2 linked regions of the Homo sapiens genome follow. The protein of the gene in region 1 purifies or fractionates together with the protein of each later gene. This does not show direct contact. Each region holds a gene or a part of one and is shown in the gene's direction. Other genes may lie near its edges.

Region 1 (7,248 bases):
GTATACATAATGGCACTCAGCTTAGGGTCCTCCAAGACTCAATTTTAGCCCATTTAGGTATTCAATTTGTCCCTGTTACATCCTGTGGCCACATGGTACACCACTGTCCTTGGCCACTCACATCCAAGTGGAAATTAGAGGATTGGACCATCCAAAGTAGATTTTTTAAAAACCAACGTGGCAGCCTAATCATGGGTCACTGGTTTTATCTCTTTGTCCAAAAGACAGCACAAATATTTCTGTTTGTGTTGCTTTTCCCCTCCAGATGCCTCTGGTACCCACTAAGAAAGAGATCCACATGGAGGACTTCCTGTCCTCTCTTCCAGAAGGTGCAATAGCACAGTGTCCTAGGACTTTCATTCCTGATTGTCGTAGGAAAGGAGTGTGTGTGTGCATGTGTGTGTGTGTGTGCGCGCGCACTTTCTTCTATATTGGGGAAAGGGGGGATCCTAAGTTTCATAACCCTAATTTAGAAACAATTTGCATCTTTAAAAAAAATTACACATTCCTTATTCCCAGGCAAGCTATAGTCAGACAGATGATGAAAGTAACATGAAAACTGGTGATGATGGAGAGCCCTGTGGCCACACAGAGGAGGAAGACAGCAGCCTGGCAGCAGCCTCACCGAAGAGAGGAACCACCACACCCAGCAGCTCCTGACAGACCCCCACCCCTAAAGATGTGTCCTGATGACTATAGTGCAGCTAACTTTTTGTTCTCAGATTTGTAGTGCATAGGTGTGTGTTTCAAGAAGGAAAAAAAAAGACTTCTGTTCAAAGTTAACTTATCAGCTACATCCTCTGTAACGTGGTTCATCCCTGGTTAAAAAGCAAACAAACACAGGCTGAAAACCCATGCTGCTGTTATACACAATGGCAGTATTAACAAGCATTTTAAACCTTTGCACATGATATTGAACCTGTTCAGTTTACAATGACAATATTAATACTGTTTATAGCTAGAAGTTTGATTTCTGAATTCTTTGAGATTTTAGCAAAACAGTTTATTATACACTGTACATTTTTTTCACAGCAATTGGAAAAAAACAACCACTTGCAATCATTCAATAACCCTGAAGAATTTGGTTCCTGAGTGTACAAACTCAGAGCCCGGAAGCCAAGAAGGGTCCTTGGCCTGCACGGTCTGTAGTTGACTCCAAGTCTCTGTGAGCAGTGACTTGAACCAAACACACCAGGAATAATCCATTCTTTGGGGCCTCTTTCCAACTCGAGGTTGTTTTCTTTCAAGATACTCTAATCAGCCATAGAATTTAGTGTAAATATTTTTTTTTCCAAATAGATATCATATTCAAAAAAGGCAGCATTCAAATTATATAGAATCTAGTTTTTAAAATCAGCACAGATCTTCTTAAAAACTGTGAACTATGTTTTGAAATACTCGTTACTAAAGCTGTTTATAAACCACAGGTGCCATAAGATCCCCAAACGGACTAAAGTTATCTCTGCTCTTCCATGGTCTTGTTCCTCTCGTTTTGGCTTTAGGAAGCATGTCTTTAACAGCACCGCTCGTTCACAAGTTCCCCCATCAAGTTGTTTGGAGGCCTTCAGCTTTAAATGTACAGGCTTAAAGTGCGCTTGCAAACGTTTGCTCTCCTTTTTTTCTGAATGTTGATTGCCTTAGCTGGCCACCTGGTGTTCTGCATGTAGCCTTCTGTGGTCATGTGAAAGGAGACAGGCTCTTCTAAGTTGAGTTGGGATTTTTGCACTCAGTGAAAAGCTGAAGTGCAAAAGAGCTATCAAAGACAAGAGGATAAAAGACTGGGATAGTCTTTTCCAAGGACCCTCTTTAGAGGGCCCTAAAGACCTCCTTTGGGAATTCTGGGGAAAAAGAAAAAGTAATCTTCTACTTGCTTCAAGATTTGATTTTTTTAAAAAAGCCTGCGACCTATTCAATACATTATGCTTAAATTAGCAGTTTCTCTGGAATTCCTGTCTCTCCTTTAAAAGAAAGGAGAGAACATTTTAGAACAATAGTTCTCAAAGTGTGTTCCCCGGACAAGCAGCATCTGCAACACTTAGGAAGGTCTTCGAAATACTAATTTGTAAGCCCCACCTCAGGCCTACTGAATCAGAAGCTCTGGGGGTTGGGTCCAGAAGTCTGTTTTAGTCAACCCTCTAGGTGATTCTGATGCTCGCTAAAGGTTGAGAACTACTGCTTTAGAATGAAGTCGTATAATAAAGTCTCTGAAAAGGCCTTATTCAGAATAAGCAAGAAAGGTTCTGTGATTCACTTTTGCTTCTGGGGCTGGCAAAAACCTTCTCTGAACCCACACACCAAGTTCGTAGTTGGTAGGTGCCCAGCCAAGTCCTGACATCTTCATGCCCCCTCTGCAGAGGGCGGCTGTACGATGTTCACATGTCTGCGTTTGGTCAGACATCATCTCCTTGGCTGCCCTTTGAAACCAAATCACTTGCCTTGGGGATAAAGTGCTCAATTGGCATTAGTGAGAAGCCCATCCTATCCCTTGACATACTTAATCATATATCTCTCCAGAGAACTCACCTGACAAATGTCTCTGAGCACAGGCTGACACCAAAGTGGCACAACTGCACAGTTCTCAGATTTCTTTGCACAGATTGATTTTTATTGCGGGTTTTGTTGGGGTGTCTTAATGTTCATCTCTTTTCCACTGCCCATCCTCTGTGAACCCATACCTCTCTAGATGGAGCAGGTGGCCACTGGTGCCTCATACTCAGTATTGAAAACCACTACATCCCAGCTACCTATAATGCTGTCAGCTCAAAATCATAGCCAGGTAGTTCTTGAACTCAGAACTTAAATCCTGCACGTGGCACTCCACCACTGACTGGACCGAGCTGGCATATGTTGTTTCTTTGTGTTTCTACATCAAAATGTTCGTCTAAGATTTGAACTGTTCTGCTGATAACCTTCCCCGTTGTCATAGCTATTTCATTGCCAACCAACTCCATCACATGGTTGTTGATATCGTCATATAAAGCCATTGCAAGGACTCTGGAAACTGCCGCCAATGACCAATTTCTGACTAACCAGCCACCTTTTCTCTCTCTTAGCTCCACGTCAGCACTGAGACCAGACTCGAGCACCCCTGTCCTGTAAGCGAGACAAAATGGCGTGTGTTATTTTGGGGTTTTGTGTTTTTTGGTGGGTTTCTTTCCTTGGCTCTCCAGATTTACTTTTGGGGCCTGTTCTAAGTGCAAACCCAGCAAGTTTCACTTGTCCTGTCCATTAGATACAACTACATCTTGCGGGGGTTGTTTCTTTCTTGTTCCACAATGAATTGCACATCCATCTCCATCAGAGCTGATAGCCTGTTAATAAGCACTGGTCTAACACAGCCAACCCTCCTCCACAGCGCCATATTAATGGAGGAGGGGAGGAAGGTGAAATCTACTGCATGGGATTCAGGAAACAGTTGTGGTTGGTCAGGACGGAAGTTGGGGTAAGTTTGGTTGGTCAGAGGGAGTTGTGCTGGAGATTGTGAAAAATGGGTTCTTGAATGATCTACTATAAGGCAGGGAAGGTTCATTTGTAAGTAGTAATGTGAACTGAATTGCATTAAGAGTGTGTGGCCTTTGTTGTGATATACTATGTATTTTCTTATATGCATGAGCCAAACTGTTGCATCATAATTTAGCACTGATGTCTGCTTTTATTTTGATCATCTTTGTCCACCCTTATTAGTTCTTGGCTGTTAACCGTAGATAGATCTTGTAAATCCAGCAACCTTTGGTTGCTGCATTCCCCTTGGTTCGATTCCACGCAAGGAGCCACAAGTGAGAACTCCACTGTCCTTAGAAGAAAGGGCATTTTTACTTTTGAACCAAAAAGAGAAAAAAAAATCAGAAGTGTTGCATCTTGAGGCGAATTAACTGTAAGACATTTTTAATTATGACTACTGCAATTTGACACCATTTGAAATAATCAATTCAGAGACACTAAAGATTTCACAATATTCATTGGTATTGTAAAAAAAAAATACTATTGTATGGATTTTTGTATTGCTGTTAAGTATTGTTTTGTGTGTGTGTGTGTGTGTGTGTGTTGGAACCTCCTGGGGACATGTTATATTTTGAAGTGATTAAACTATTTAATTGTGTGTCTATATTTTGGAGTGGAATAATTTCTTCATTAAAAAATGTTTTTAAAAACACTATATCTTGGGTGGTTTATTCCTTTGTTTCAGTGAATCTTTCCTAAAGCAACGTGGAGTCAGTCTGTTGAAAGAAGGAAGGCAGGTACTTGCAGTTTAAAGCAGGACCCATTGATGGAATATTGAGCCACCGAGGCAAAATAGCTCACCTTCTCTTGCCTTGGGGGATGCATGGTTTTTACCATTCTACTGTTTTATTAGCATCTGTGAGCATCTAATAGAAATACTATTCTGCTATTTATGGAAATCCTTATTATAATTGATATGGAAGTGAGTTTGAAATTCTAACAGCTAACATATTTCATGTTTGTATCACACACTGTTCTTAACACTTTATGTGACTTCACTCAATTCTTTGAATCCTCTGCATCTAGCCATGTATTCTGCAAATATTAAGTGCTCAATGGTTTTTTTGTTGAATTACTGAATAAATGAATTAGTGGTGTTTGGTTTGTTTTTTTTTCTAGAGCTAGTGATAAAGGAGGATCAGCAGGGCTAGGAAGTCAATGTGGTGACAGCAACAGCAATCAAATTAAGAGATCCAAGGAGAGTGTCAAGAGTCCACATGTTAAGTGTTCTTATCTCAGAAACAAACCACAAAGGGACACAAAGAAACTTTTGGAGGTGATGGCTATGTCTATTACCTTGATTGTGGTGATGGTTTCACAGGTATTTAAGTATGTCCAAACTCATCAAATTGTATACATTAAATAGGTACAGATTATTGTGTATCAATTATACCTCAATAAAACTTTAAAACAAACACATACAGATATAAATCTTGCACGCACAGATGGAAGAAATAGAGTCCACAGTGATGATCACTCCTTCTATTCACATCTCTCCCTCAGAACCTCTGTGAGTCCCATGCAATGGAAGATTGGGTGTTTCACTTGCTGAAAGATCTGTTTTCTTTACAGGATCTGTGAGTCTGGCTCTACGCTTCAAGAATAGCATTTTTGGGAAATCTGACTCTGGTGCTGAAAGTCTGTGCTCACAGGGTTGGGTTGATTTGAAGTCCATGGAAACAACTGTCAACACTCTAGACGCACTAGAGAGAGAAATTAAGAAGTTCTCCATCAATTACAAAGGCAAATACTGACCTGAGATAATCGTGAGAGGGAACTCACACAGTCCACTTCCCTTTGAAGGTGAGAGCCAAGGGCATGTCCAGCAGCTCCTGTCCACATCCCTTTGGGCGCTATCCCAGTGACTCACCACTTCATCTCTTAGGGGCCACATTTAGCTCTGCCCTACCTCAGCATTTCCCAAATTTATTGAATTACAAAAGCCTCCTGAGAAGTTGATTAATTCTGATTTGGCAGATGTAGAGTAGGGTCAGGTAATCTGGATGGTATTTTTAATAAGCACTTCAGGTGATGCTTACAGTCTGACCAGTTTTAACAAATGCTATTATGCTATTTCTTTGCTGCTCAAAATATGGTCCAGTGACCAACAGAATTAGCATCACCTGGACTTTGAGGATTCCCGTATATAGGACATAAAGATACCCTTCCCAGAAGTTGCCATCATCTAATCATGTGATTGATCTTTCTGGTGATCAGCCCCATTCTGAAGCTATCTAGGAACCTACAAAGAGTCACCTCATTAGCATAAAAAATATACTCTTGTCACTCAGGAAATTCCAAGGGCTTTTGAAGCTCTGTGCCAGGAGCCAGGTACAAAGACCAGAGAGACCACATATATTCTCCATTATGCTACACAATAATACTTGCTTTTATATTTGCCCATGTAGTTACCTTTACTGTAGACCTTTATTTCTTCATACAGCTTCAAGTTACCATTTAGTGTCCTTTCATTTCAACTTGAGGACATCTTGTAGCATTTCTTGCAGGGCAGGTCTACTTGTAGTGAACCCCTCAGCTTTTGTTTATTGGGAATATCTCAATTTCTTCCTCACTTTTGAAGGGCAATTTTGCCAGATACAGAATTCTTGGTTGATAGGTTCTTTTCTTTCAGCACTTTAAATATGCCCACTGTTTTCTGGCTTCCATAGTTCCTGATAAATAGCCAACTGTTCATCTTACTAAGGTTCCCTTGTACATGATAGTTGATTCTTTCTTGTTGCTTTCAAGATTCTCTGTCTTTGACATTCAACAGTTTGATTACAATGTTCTTGATGTGGACCTCACTGAATTTATTCTACCTAGAGTTCATTGTGCTTGTTGGATGTATAGAAATAAATTTCACAGATAATTTTTCAGGGAGATTGGTTAGGACATCACTGCAATAATCCAAACAAAAAGAAATAATGATAGTTTAGACTAAGGGTAGAGTAAAAGTGGTTATATTCTAAATATGTTTTGAGGGTAGAACCAACAGATTTTGTGGGTAGATTGGATGTGTGTGAGAGAAAGAGAAGAAATAAGGATGATAAAATAATTTGAGAACCCAAATAACTGGGAGAATTAAACTACTGAGAAAGAGCAGAATTTGGGTGGGTAGAATTTCAGGAGCTAATTTCTGGACTTAATACCTTCGAGATGCCTATTAAACATCCAAGTGAAAAGAGGGAGGAGTATTGGAAATCTAGGCTTGAAATTCAGAAGCAAAGTCTGAACTGGTACTACAAATCTTGACATCATCACTATGGAGATAATAAAAGAGACTGAAAAGGAATGGTCAGAAATGTAGGAATAAAATCAGGAGCTGTGGTGATGATCAACTGTGTTGATGCAGCAGCTGTCACATGAGCATTGAATTGAATTGATTTAATCATGTTCAAAGAATCTCTTTGCTATTTTCAAGCTTGAAGAACTCCTATGTTCTTAATGAAATCTTCATGAACCCTGAGTGAAAAGTCATGTTTGCTTTTCCTCTAAAAGCCTCAAGGGAGTTGAGTACTATAATAAATCCACAGAGTTGATTAGACGAATGGATACCTAGAATAACGAATGCAGAGAAGTCCTTAAAAGGGCTGATGGAGCTGAAAACCAAGGCTTGAGAACTACGTGAAGAATGCAGAAGCCTCAGGAGCCGATGCGATCAACTGGAAGAAAGGGTATCAGTGATGGAAGACGAAATGAATGAAATGAGCCGATTCTGATTTCCATCTCCACACACCCTCAAAAGCT
Region 2 (10,201 bases), on another chromosome or scaffold:
AGAAACCAGGAGACAAAGGAAGCTTTTGCAGTAGTCAGCTATAGTTTCCATGTTACACATCCTTGGAGTAGCATCAATGTATTATAAGGTTTTCACCCGTCCATGGTGAAATAAATAATGTTAGAAATCTCAGTTACTCATTTTACTATGTTGGCCTTCGTTATGCCTTTTTCACTTGTTTTGCTTAATTTTTTTTTCCTGTAAGAAATAACATTAATAGTTGGCAGTTTTCTTTTAAATAGAAGTCATTTTGTAAATGTTTATGTTCCCAGTGGCAGTGGGAATATAAAACAGAGGCAGAAGAGAGGTATAGTCAATATGATTTAGTGATAATTGAATGAGAAAGGCTTGGGGGACAGAGAGAAATCTCAGATGATGTACAGGTTTCCAGATTGTACACTAGTATTTAACCTGGACATGAGGAAGGAGTAGGAAATTTTCTGGTGAATACAGGAGAGCAAAGAGCAGCAGGTCAGCAGGAATGACTAATTTTTTTCTATGCATGTTTAATGGAATATTCGTGTAGGATATTTTGAGTAGGTCATTGGATAATCAGCATTTATAACTCACATCCTACTAGTTTGATTCTCAGTAATAAGACTTGTCAAAGATCCAAGAATCTGAAAGTCAGTAATAAATGTCCATGTGCATCATCGTCCGTGACAGAAAGTCAGCATCCACAGAACACAGAATTGGGACAGATGAACTTAATAGATAAAGATGAATATCGGAGTTGTTCCTCTTAGGGAATGATACTCTCCATGACCTGTGTGAGTCACAGCTGCCAGAAAAGAAAGAGCAAGGAGCATATGAAGGCAGCACAGCAAATTCGGTCCTAGAGTGCCCTGCTTGGCTTCATGTCATAGTTCTGACTTCTAAATAATCATTTTCTGCAAAATGTGCTTTGTGTTTTTCCCTCTTGCCGCCTGCAGCCAATCAGAATTTTTTAGCAGGACATAATGAAAAGAAGTAAGAGAAAGAGTGTTTTTTTGTATGGGATAGTATTTAACGTAAACTTGAGAGTGAGTACCAGGATTATACTTAGAATTTATGGACTGGATGGAAAGACTGGATAGAAATCTAAAGATTGCTGACTCAAACACAATGTGGTTTCTTTGATTTATTTTCACAGCTCTGAATTCACGACTGTTAATTGTATTCATATGCACTATAACTTTACAAAGCATCTTCCCAAACCAAATATTTACTGATTTAGTATAATTTGTATGACTTTATTATAGAACTGACTTTCCAAGTGTTCATGAGAATTGTTTAGTATTTGCTACATTGTATCATCTCAGCTGTGTCCACATGAGCTATCTGTCACCTTGTCTTAATGAATAATTGTTCACTAGGAATATTGGTTTTGGCATTGAAATGATCTATATCTAAATGCAGATAGGACCCGGGACCACTTTTGAACATTAATGTCCAAGCATCTTAAAATTACACATAAGGCTTTCATAATCTGACTTCTGCCCCACTCTCCATCTTTAGCCCTTTTCCCTGTGTGCACTGTCTCTGGCATTACTGAGCTGCTGGCAATGCCCTACTCACTCATCCTTCTATTGTAGGCAAATACTTTCACTCTTTCAGGCCTCGCTCCCGCTCTTGCTGCTGCATGGTATGCCGTCACCCTTTCCTGCCCTCTACCCCTTTTAATCTGGCTAGTCTCAATATTTAAGTCTCTGCTTGGGCATGTGTTCTAGAAAAGCCATCTCTGACAGGCTTTATTTTAATTCTTTTTAAACCCTAATGCCTAGCATGTATTTAGCAGGACTCAATAAAATATTTCTGAGTAAAACAAAGACTGTTTTTACAAAGATGATGTGCAAGACTCTCCCCTGCAGTCTTGGAGCAGAGGGGACAGACATGTGGAGGAATAATGTACAGTTTAGGTGGTCAAGATGCAGTAGAAAAATCAGTAAAGTACTAAGGCAGCCTCAAGGAAGGAGGTACCTGTTTATTTGGGGAAAGACATGCAAAATCAAGGAAGACTTCACATAGCATTGTTTCAAAAGATGAAAATAAGGCCAGGTGTGGTGGCTCACACCTGTAATCCCAGCACTTTCAGAGGGGATCACGAGGTCAGGAGATCGAGACCATCCTGTCCAATGGTGAAACCCCATCTCTACTAAAAATACAAAAATCAGCTGGGTGTGGTGGTGCTTGCCTGTAATCACAGTTACTCAGGAGACTGAAGCAGGAGAATCACTTGAACCAGGGAGGCGGAGGTTGCAGTGAGCTGATCATGCCACTGCATTCCAGCCTGGTGACAGAGGAAGACCCTGGTTCATAAAAAAAAAAAAAGAAAAAAGAAAAAAAGAAAATAAATTTGTCAGAATAGTGGAGGGAAACATTTTAGATATTAGGAAGACGTTGTACACTAATAAAGGTGTCAGCAGTGATTTTGGAAATCATTTATAAGGTACTATTAGGAAGTGGAGAACAGTACACTGTGTCACCTTATATGTTTCTACTGTATTTTAAAGCTGTGTTTCTGGTGGTTTTGTTCATGGATGTTGGGTGGATGAATTTGTGAGGGAATTTTTGACATGTTTGTTTGTCTTCAATCTGGTGACATCTGGTATCTCCCCAAGTGGGTTTTTGAAGTTTTTGAGAATTATTTCTTAAATGACAATTTCACAAAAGATGAAACACTCAATTTATGAAATAAAATGAAATGTCTCAAATCCGTTTTTAAAAGGCAATAGTTTTTAACTGTTCTAAGTGGTTGATTTTAACTGAATATATGGATTTTTCAACAGAACAAGACTTAAAGCTGACATCAGAGGAAGAGTCACAAAGGCTTAAAGGCAGTGAAAATGGCCAGCCAGAGGCATGGAAACTTTTAAATTTAAACTTTTGTTTAATGTTGTGTGTTTTTTGCCTTAATAATAGTAGATAGTCCAAATGAAATTACCTTTCAGACTAGGCTTTGAGAATCAGTAGATTGTTTTTTTAAGAATCTTTTGGCCAGGCAAGGTGGCTCACGCCTGTAATCCCAGCACTTTGAGAGGCTGAGGCAGGTGGATCACGAGGTCTGGAGATCGAGACCATCCTGGCTAACATGGTGAAACCCCGTCTCTAGTAAAAATACAAAAACTTAGCTGGGCGTGGTGGCGGGTGCCTGTAGTCCCAGCTACTCGGGAGGCTGAGGCAGGAGAATGGCATGAACCCAGGAGAGGGAGCTTGCAGTGAGCCGACATCCACCACTACACTCCAGCCTGGGTGACAGAGCAAGACTCCATCTGAAAAAAATATATATATATATTTTAATAGGTTCTTAAAATTTATTGTAATAAAATCAGCAACCTTCTTAACAGAAGAATCAATAGATTCTAATTTAATATTTGATATTTAACTTCAACATAACCCACTATAAAATTTAAAATACTCTTATTTTAAAATATTCTTATCTGCCTTCTTGATTAGCTTATAGCTAATCTCTCCTTTTGGAATAGAGGCAAAAACAAATTTCAGAACTTTGTTTGTTCTTTTATTTTTACAACACCCTAACATGATAAAGAAAGTAACATCAATGATTGAATCATATTATTAAGCAATAGGAATTATGAACAATGTAACACTGATTCCCTGAGCTGGATTCATGGTTAAAGAGTAATCATGGCCTGTGATTGAAAATCCACAGTTTTATATTGTCAGTCACTGATACCAAGGTTAAGGACATATCCTGCCTTGTGGTCTCTCGTTGACCTCAGTGTTTCTGTTCAGGGAGGGAACCAGGTCATAAAAGCAACCCAACTGCCTATTACAAGAACCATATCTTGCAGAATGGGACCTTTGGTGTTAGTGCACAAACACAATAACATTCTAATTTATTTCAGTTGCAGAAAATCAGTACAGATTAAAAAATTCTATCTGCTGTCATTAGTACACATTAGAATATATTAGAACTGGACTTACGCAGATAATCTGGATACATAACACTATCATATGACAGTATATAATTTCAATTAAAATGTGAGAATTTGCATTTCTTTCTGTTTGGTGTTGATTTCGGCTCCTAATAGTTTAAAGGGTGCCTACAATCCAGTTAGGAATCTTTTAAAAAAGCACTTCAGTGCACTGTAGGGGCTCACTAGTTAGGGTTTCATGAGGTAAACTCTTTTCAAGTGAGGAAGATTTTGGAACACTACAAATCATCTGCTGATTCATTTTTGGTAGATTTAACACATAACAAATTAAGTTTAGTCCAAACAAATAGTGAGAAAGTTAAGTTTGCTGGTTCATGTTTTTCTTCTCCCTTTGTCTAAGGTGAATTATTTTTCACATGTTAGAAGCCAGTGATGTGGCAGTAGCTAAACATAGATTAAAAAGTTAATTCTTAATTTTAATTATTATTTATTTAAACAGTTTAATTTTAATTACTTTCTAATTTTTATTGTCCATACTTGATTACTTCAGAATAAAATTATTTTAAAAACATGCACTCCAAAAGAGGAAATGTCACAGAAATACAACAAGCAAATTAACCTTCTGTTTTTACATCTGCAGAAAAGATCTCAAGAACCAGAAATAAATAAGGATGGTGATAGAGAGGTATACCTTTATATTCAAATGTTTGTGTTGAATTAGATTTTTACATTATGTTGTTTAACAAAGTGTAGTAAATGTAGGCATACATGATCCTATCATGTAAGTAGCATAAATCATCAGTGAAAAATTAAATAGTTAACTCAGAATTCTGTACATTGAATTTTGAAGAGGTGCAAACCCTAGAGCTATTCTTTCATTATTATGGAATAATCCCGAATGGTGCCATAAAATGCTAGGTAATGCCACTTTAGGAGCTTTAGACCAATTATTTTATCTTTCTTGGTTTTAGTCTGATTATCAGTAGATAATGTGCCTAAAGTAGATAATTTCTTATTCTCTGTATTTTCCAGCTAGAAAATTTTATGGCTATCGAAGAAATGAAGAAGCACGGAAGTACTCACGTCGGATTCCCAGAAAACCTGACTAATGGTGCCACTGCTGGCAATGGTGATGATGGATTAATTCCTCCAAGGAAGAGCAGAACACCTGAAAGCCAGCAATTTCCTGACACTGAGAATGAAGAGTATCACAGGTAAGCCTATGGCAACATTGAACAGGAGGTAACTTTGTGCTGTCAAACTAATCCTAATTTGAGCTAATATTCATGATGAACAAATTTTATACTTTTATTAGGATATTGAGCCTTGCCTGTTAATCAGAAAAATGAAAATCAGCAAACAATCAGTTACCGTTTTTTTTCCAGTCATTAATTTATTTGAAAAATAACCAGTATTGGCAAATGTGAGGGAAAAGGCATTTTCTTCTCTTTTCAGTGAACTTTTATTTTAGCTTCGGGTACGTGTGCAGGTTTATTATATAGGTAAACTGTATCATGGAGGCTTGGGGTACAGATTATTTCACCAGCCACATAATAAACAAAATACTCGAAAGGTAGTTTTTTGGTCGTCTCCCTCCTGCCATGCTCCTCCCTCAAGTAGGCCCCAGTGTATGTTATTCTCCTCTTTGTGTCCATGAGTTCTCATGTTTAGTTCCCACTAATGAGTAAGAATATGTGGCATTTGATTTTCTGTTCCTGCATGAGTTTTCTTAGGATAATGGCCTCCAGCTCCATCCGTGTTGCTGCAGGGGAAATGGTTTCATTGAAAAAGACATTTCATATACTGTTGGTAAATACATTTTGAACATTAATTGAGTAGCATATTCACACACACATATATAACAGAGTAAGCATATATAATACATGTAAAGGATATTTGTATAGATATGTTATATGTATACTTATGTATAAGGACATTTATTATAGTATTATTATGTAAAAAATTTGGAACTAGTCTAATTGCTTATCAATAGGAAATAGCTCAATTTCCATATCCCCAAAATAATGTATTATGCAACCATTTTTAAAAAATGAGGTTAGATGTAGGGTATACTGATTATTTCACAATTAAAATGTATTTAAAGCGTTTAGTTTGATGACACATCTTAAGAGTTCTTGTTAAAATTCTTGTAATATCTGCTGTGTTGCAAATGGAAGCTACATGCTACATTGACACTGTACCTTGTTAGCAACAAGATTGCTAGTTACTAAATTTTTGTTGTCAGTGCCTGAGTGCTGAAATATTGGACCCTCAATCTGAATATTGCCAAGGGATTGTACATGGGGATCTATATTTAATATAAACATTTCAGTATATTTGGTAAAACTTTTATTAAAATACATCAAAGAATCTTTGATCTACTAAACCAGGAGTTGGCCAGCTTTTTCTGCAAAGAGCTAGTTAGTAAATATTTTAGGCTTTGTGGACTACATATATTGATTTTCTTGAGACAGGGTCTCACTCTGTTTCCCAGGCTGGAGTGCAGTTGTGTGATCATGGCTCACTGCAGCCTCGACTTTCTGGGCTCTAGTGATCCTCTGACCTCAGTCTCTACTAGCTGAGACCACAGGTGTGCAACATCACACCCAGCTAACTGACACTATGGACTGTAAAGTGAATAAGCATGGCTGTGTTCCAAGATACTTGACTTACAAAAACGGGCAGTGGGCTGGATTTGGCCCACAGGTGCTTATTTGCTGACCCTTGTGCTAAAAGGAAGGTGCTGCTAATGCAGTGACTTTTATTTGTAAAAGTGCCCTGCATGTGTGACATTATCCTCCCTTTGAGAAAAGGATATATTTCAGTATTCACCTCACCGTATTTTTCCAGTGACTTCATATGATTTTGAAAACTACATTTATAAAATAAGATTATTTTCTGCATTTCTCCCACTTTATTCCTGTTAATAGAACTCAGTATTTTACTGTGATCAATTACTTTGTATATTTGATGAGTGTCAACTGTCCTAGAATTGGCTGATTTTTATCAAGCAAGAAATATTCTCCTTGAGAGTTTTAGTATTTCTTGGTCTTTATGTATAAGCATGAACAAAATGATAATCAGCTTATGTAATCTAGAAATGTTCAAAGGGCCTTTAAAAACCTTGGTCTGACATTTCTAAATGCCATATGTGTATAATTTTTATAACCTTTAGAATATATAATTGTTACATAAAATTTGAAAACTCCACCTGTTATGTAAAATTTGGAAGCTACTATTTCTTGTCTATCACTTTTCCATGACTGTGGATGAAAATTACATCATTCTCAGTCATGAGCGTTAAGTATGTTGTCCTTAAAGAACTGTCTACACTCATGAACTCAAATTTTCTTTCCATTCACTCTTGATCTCAATGCCGGTAAGTCTTCAATTTCAGCACTCCTCCAGAGTTGTTTTTCCTCAAGATTATCACTAATTTTTTTCTGTACTAAATCTAGGCATTTTTCTTACACCTCATTTAATCTGTCAGCAATATTTGAGCCAATGGAGGGCATCTCCTCCCTAATGGCGTCTTCACTTGGCTTTCAGGACCTCACTCCCTCAGGCTTTTCCTCCTGCCTTTCTAGTCCGTTTATCATGGTCTGTTTTGCTTGCTGCTCCTCATCTTTCTCCTTTTGGACATTGTTGTTTCTCATGGCTCAGTCCTCAATCTTCTTTCTCATGGTTTTTTTTTTTTTTTTTTTTTTTTTTTTAAGACAGAGTCTCGCTTTGTCCCCCAGGCTGGAGTTCAGTGGCATGATCTTGGCTCATTGCAACCTCTGCCTCATGAGTTCCAGCACTTCTCCTGCCTCAGCCTCCTGAGTAGCTGGGATTACAGGTGTGCGACACCACGCCTGGCTAATTTTTGTATTTTTAGTAGAGACAGGTTTCCCCATGTTGGCCAGGCTGGTCTCAAACTCCTGACATCAGGTGATCTGCCCGCCTTGGCCTCATGACATGTTGGGATTACAGGCGTGAGCCACCGTGCCTGGCCCCTCATGACTTTTTCTACTGTGTATATGCTAGTGATTTCCAAATGTATGTCTCCAACTTAGATCTCTTTCCTTAATTCCAGATCTCTATATCATCCCACCTACTTGACATCTCTATTTGATTAGCTGTTGGGTATCACACACTTGTCAGATCCAAAATTGGGCTACTGATGTCCTTCCTGAAATCTACACCTCATGTAGTCTTTCCTACTTTGGTTAACAGCAACTCTTCCAGTTGCTCTGCCAAAAACCTCAGTGTTATTCTTGACTGATCTTTCTCTCTGTCCTGACACTTCACATCTAATCTCTCAGTAAATCTTGTCAGGTCTATCTGAAGAATATATCCAGAGGCCAGTCTATCTTATACAACTGAGCCACCGTCATCTGCAGTTTAGATGAGTGTCATAGACTGGGAATTGATAGTCCTGGTTTTTAAAAGCTTCCCCTTTCATCAATTCTTATCTCAGTGGATGTATTTAAAACATAAGTCAAATGTTGTCATTCCTCTGCCCCAGCCGTTCTGATTGCCTCCCATTTCACTCTGAGTATGTGGCAGAGTTCCTCCTAATAACTGAAAGGCAGTAAACCATCTGGCATGTTACCTCTCCTGCTGAAACTTCTGTTTCTTATCTCTATTGCTGTGTTTCAGCCACACTGAACTTGTTGTTATTCCTTACCTATCCCTTAGTGCTTAAAGACTCCAGGCACACCTCTGCACTTAGCAGTTCCCTGTGTCTGGAATGCTTTTTCCCCAGATATTCTTCTAGCTTACTGTTTCCATTACTTCAGCTCTTTACTTAAAATCCCCTTTCTAAGAAGAAGAAAAAGGGTAAAAAGAAACCCATTAAGGAATAACCACTTCCTGAGGGAGAACCATGTACCAGCACAATTCCTAGCCCAGAGAAAATGAAGAAAATGAAAAAAAAGAGAGATAATGAGGACTAACAGAAAGGAATTAGGATTGTATCATCAGGACGCGTCAGGCTTGAGATTCGATTGGGAACATACCAGGGATGCTCTCTAACGTAATTGAGGGAAGTTTCAATGAAACAAAGTGATTTATCATCTCTAACTTCAAACCTATTTGTGTCTTGACATCAACTCTGTTAACATCATCATCTTTTAGAGTCTTTGATGTACAAATAAAAGTTTCTTTATATTAAAGAAAAATCCTCTTTCTCAGCAGGGACTTTTCTGGCCATCCCAACTTTCCCACCACCCTTCCCATCAAACACATAAAGATTTCATTTTCCTGCTTTGGTTTTTCTCCTCTAACGTACTGTGTATTTTGCCGTATCTGTCTGTTGTTATTGTGTGTTTATCTCACTCTCATGAATAGGGTTTTTATTGTTCATTACCATATCCTCACTTCCTAGAAAAAGGCCTAGCCTATCAGACGTAGCTACCTAATAAATAGGTATTAAATGAATGAATGGAGTTTATCCCGGGTATATTGTTTGATTGATTCTCACTTAAAAAATGTTTGACAAGGTTCATTTTAACAATTTTGCCTGGTAATTATATGTATTTTAAAAATTCTTTCGGCTTTTTATAATAAGCTACATTCTTTATATTAATATTTTTTCACTTAGGGAGAAAAGCCCAATATTGTGGTTATTCACTATTCTTTTACTGGTAATCATGATAATTGCAATTATGGTAAAATGAGTTAGAGAAATTACAAGCTTTACTGGTATTTTATTTATTTAGAGACAGAGTCTCGCTCTGTCACCCAGGCTGCAGTGCAGTGGTGTGACCTCGGCTCACTGCAACCTCTGCCTCCTGGGTTCAGGCGATTCTCCTACCTCAGCCCCCTGAGGAGCTGGGATTACAGGTGCGTGCCATGACACCCGGCTAATTTTTGTATTTTTAGTAGAGACGGGGTTTCATCCTGTTTGTCAGGCTGGTCTTGAACTCCTGACCTCAGGCAGTCCACCCACCTCATCCTCACAAAGTGCTGGGTGGATTACAGGTGTAAGCCACCACATCCGGCCACTAGTATTTTATTTTTTTTAGGGTGGTAAATGTAATGGACTCACAAATTCTTTCCAAGGGATTATGGACCTTCGGTATTTGAAATAAAAAGACAGTTGGAATTTTTTGCTTCCGATAGTAAGACTATACTGGTCAGGCACTGTCTATTCTGATGGAGCAGCTGTTGCTGCTTGGCTGTCTTTCAGAAGCAGGCTGCTCACACTGATATTGGTTGGTGAGCAAGGCCAGTGGTCATTGATCGATTGACTAGATTTTGAACTGGCTCTGGCTGGCTTCTTGTTACCATGGCTACAGGTCAATTCTTTCCTAAGTTTGAGTCAACTTTAACCAGAAATT

What was found.
Region 2: the proteins of DTNA (region 1) and POTEI purify together in Homo sapiens (affinity purification with mass spectrometry; 3 studies listed by BioGRID and IntAct, with this or other methods). This does not show direct contact.

Annotation. Positions count from the first base shown.
Region 1 is NC_000018.10:34,887,247-34,894,494, forward strand, and holds the end of DTNA (dystrobrevin alpha), read left to right. Parts: intron 1-519; 3' UTR 520-3,053; coding exon of another isoform or gene 3,054-3,194; 3' UTR 3,195-4,598; downstream 4,599-7,248. UniProt on the Homo sapiens protein: May be involved in the formation and stability of synapses as well as being involved in the clustering of nicotinic acetylcholine receptors.
Region 2 is NC_000002.12:130,469,269-130,479,469, reverse strand, and holds part of POTEI (POTE ankyrin domain family member I), read left to right. Parts: intron 1-2,768; coding exon 2,769-2,839; intron 2,840-4,518; coding exon 4,519-4,563; intron 4,564-4,910; coding exon 4,911-5,092; intron 5,093-10,201.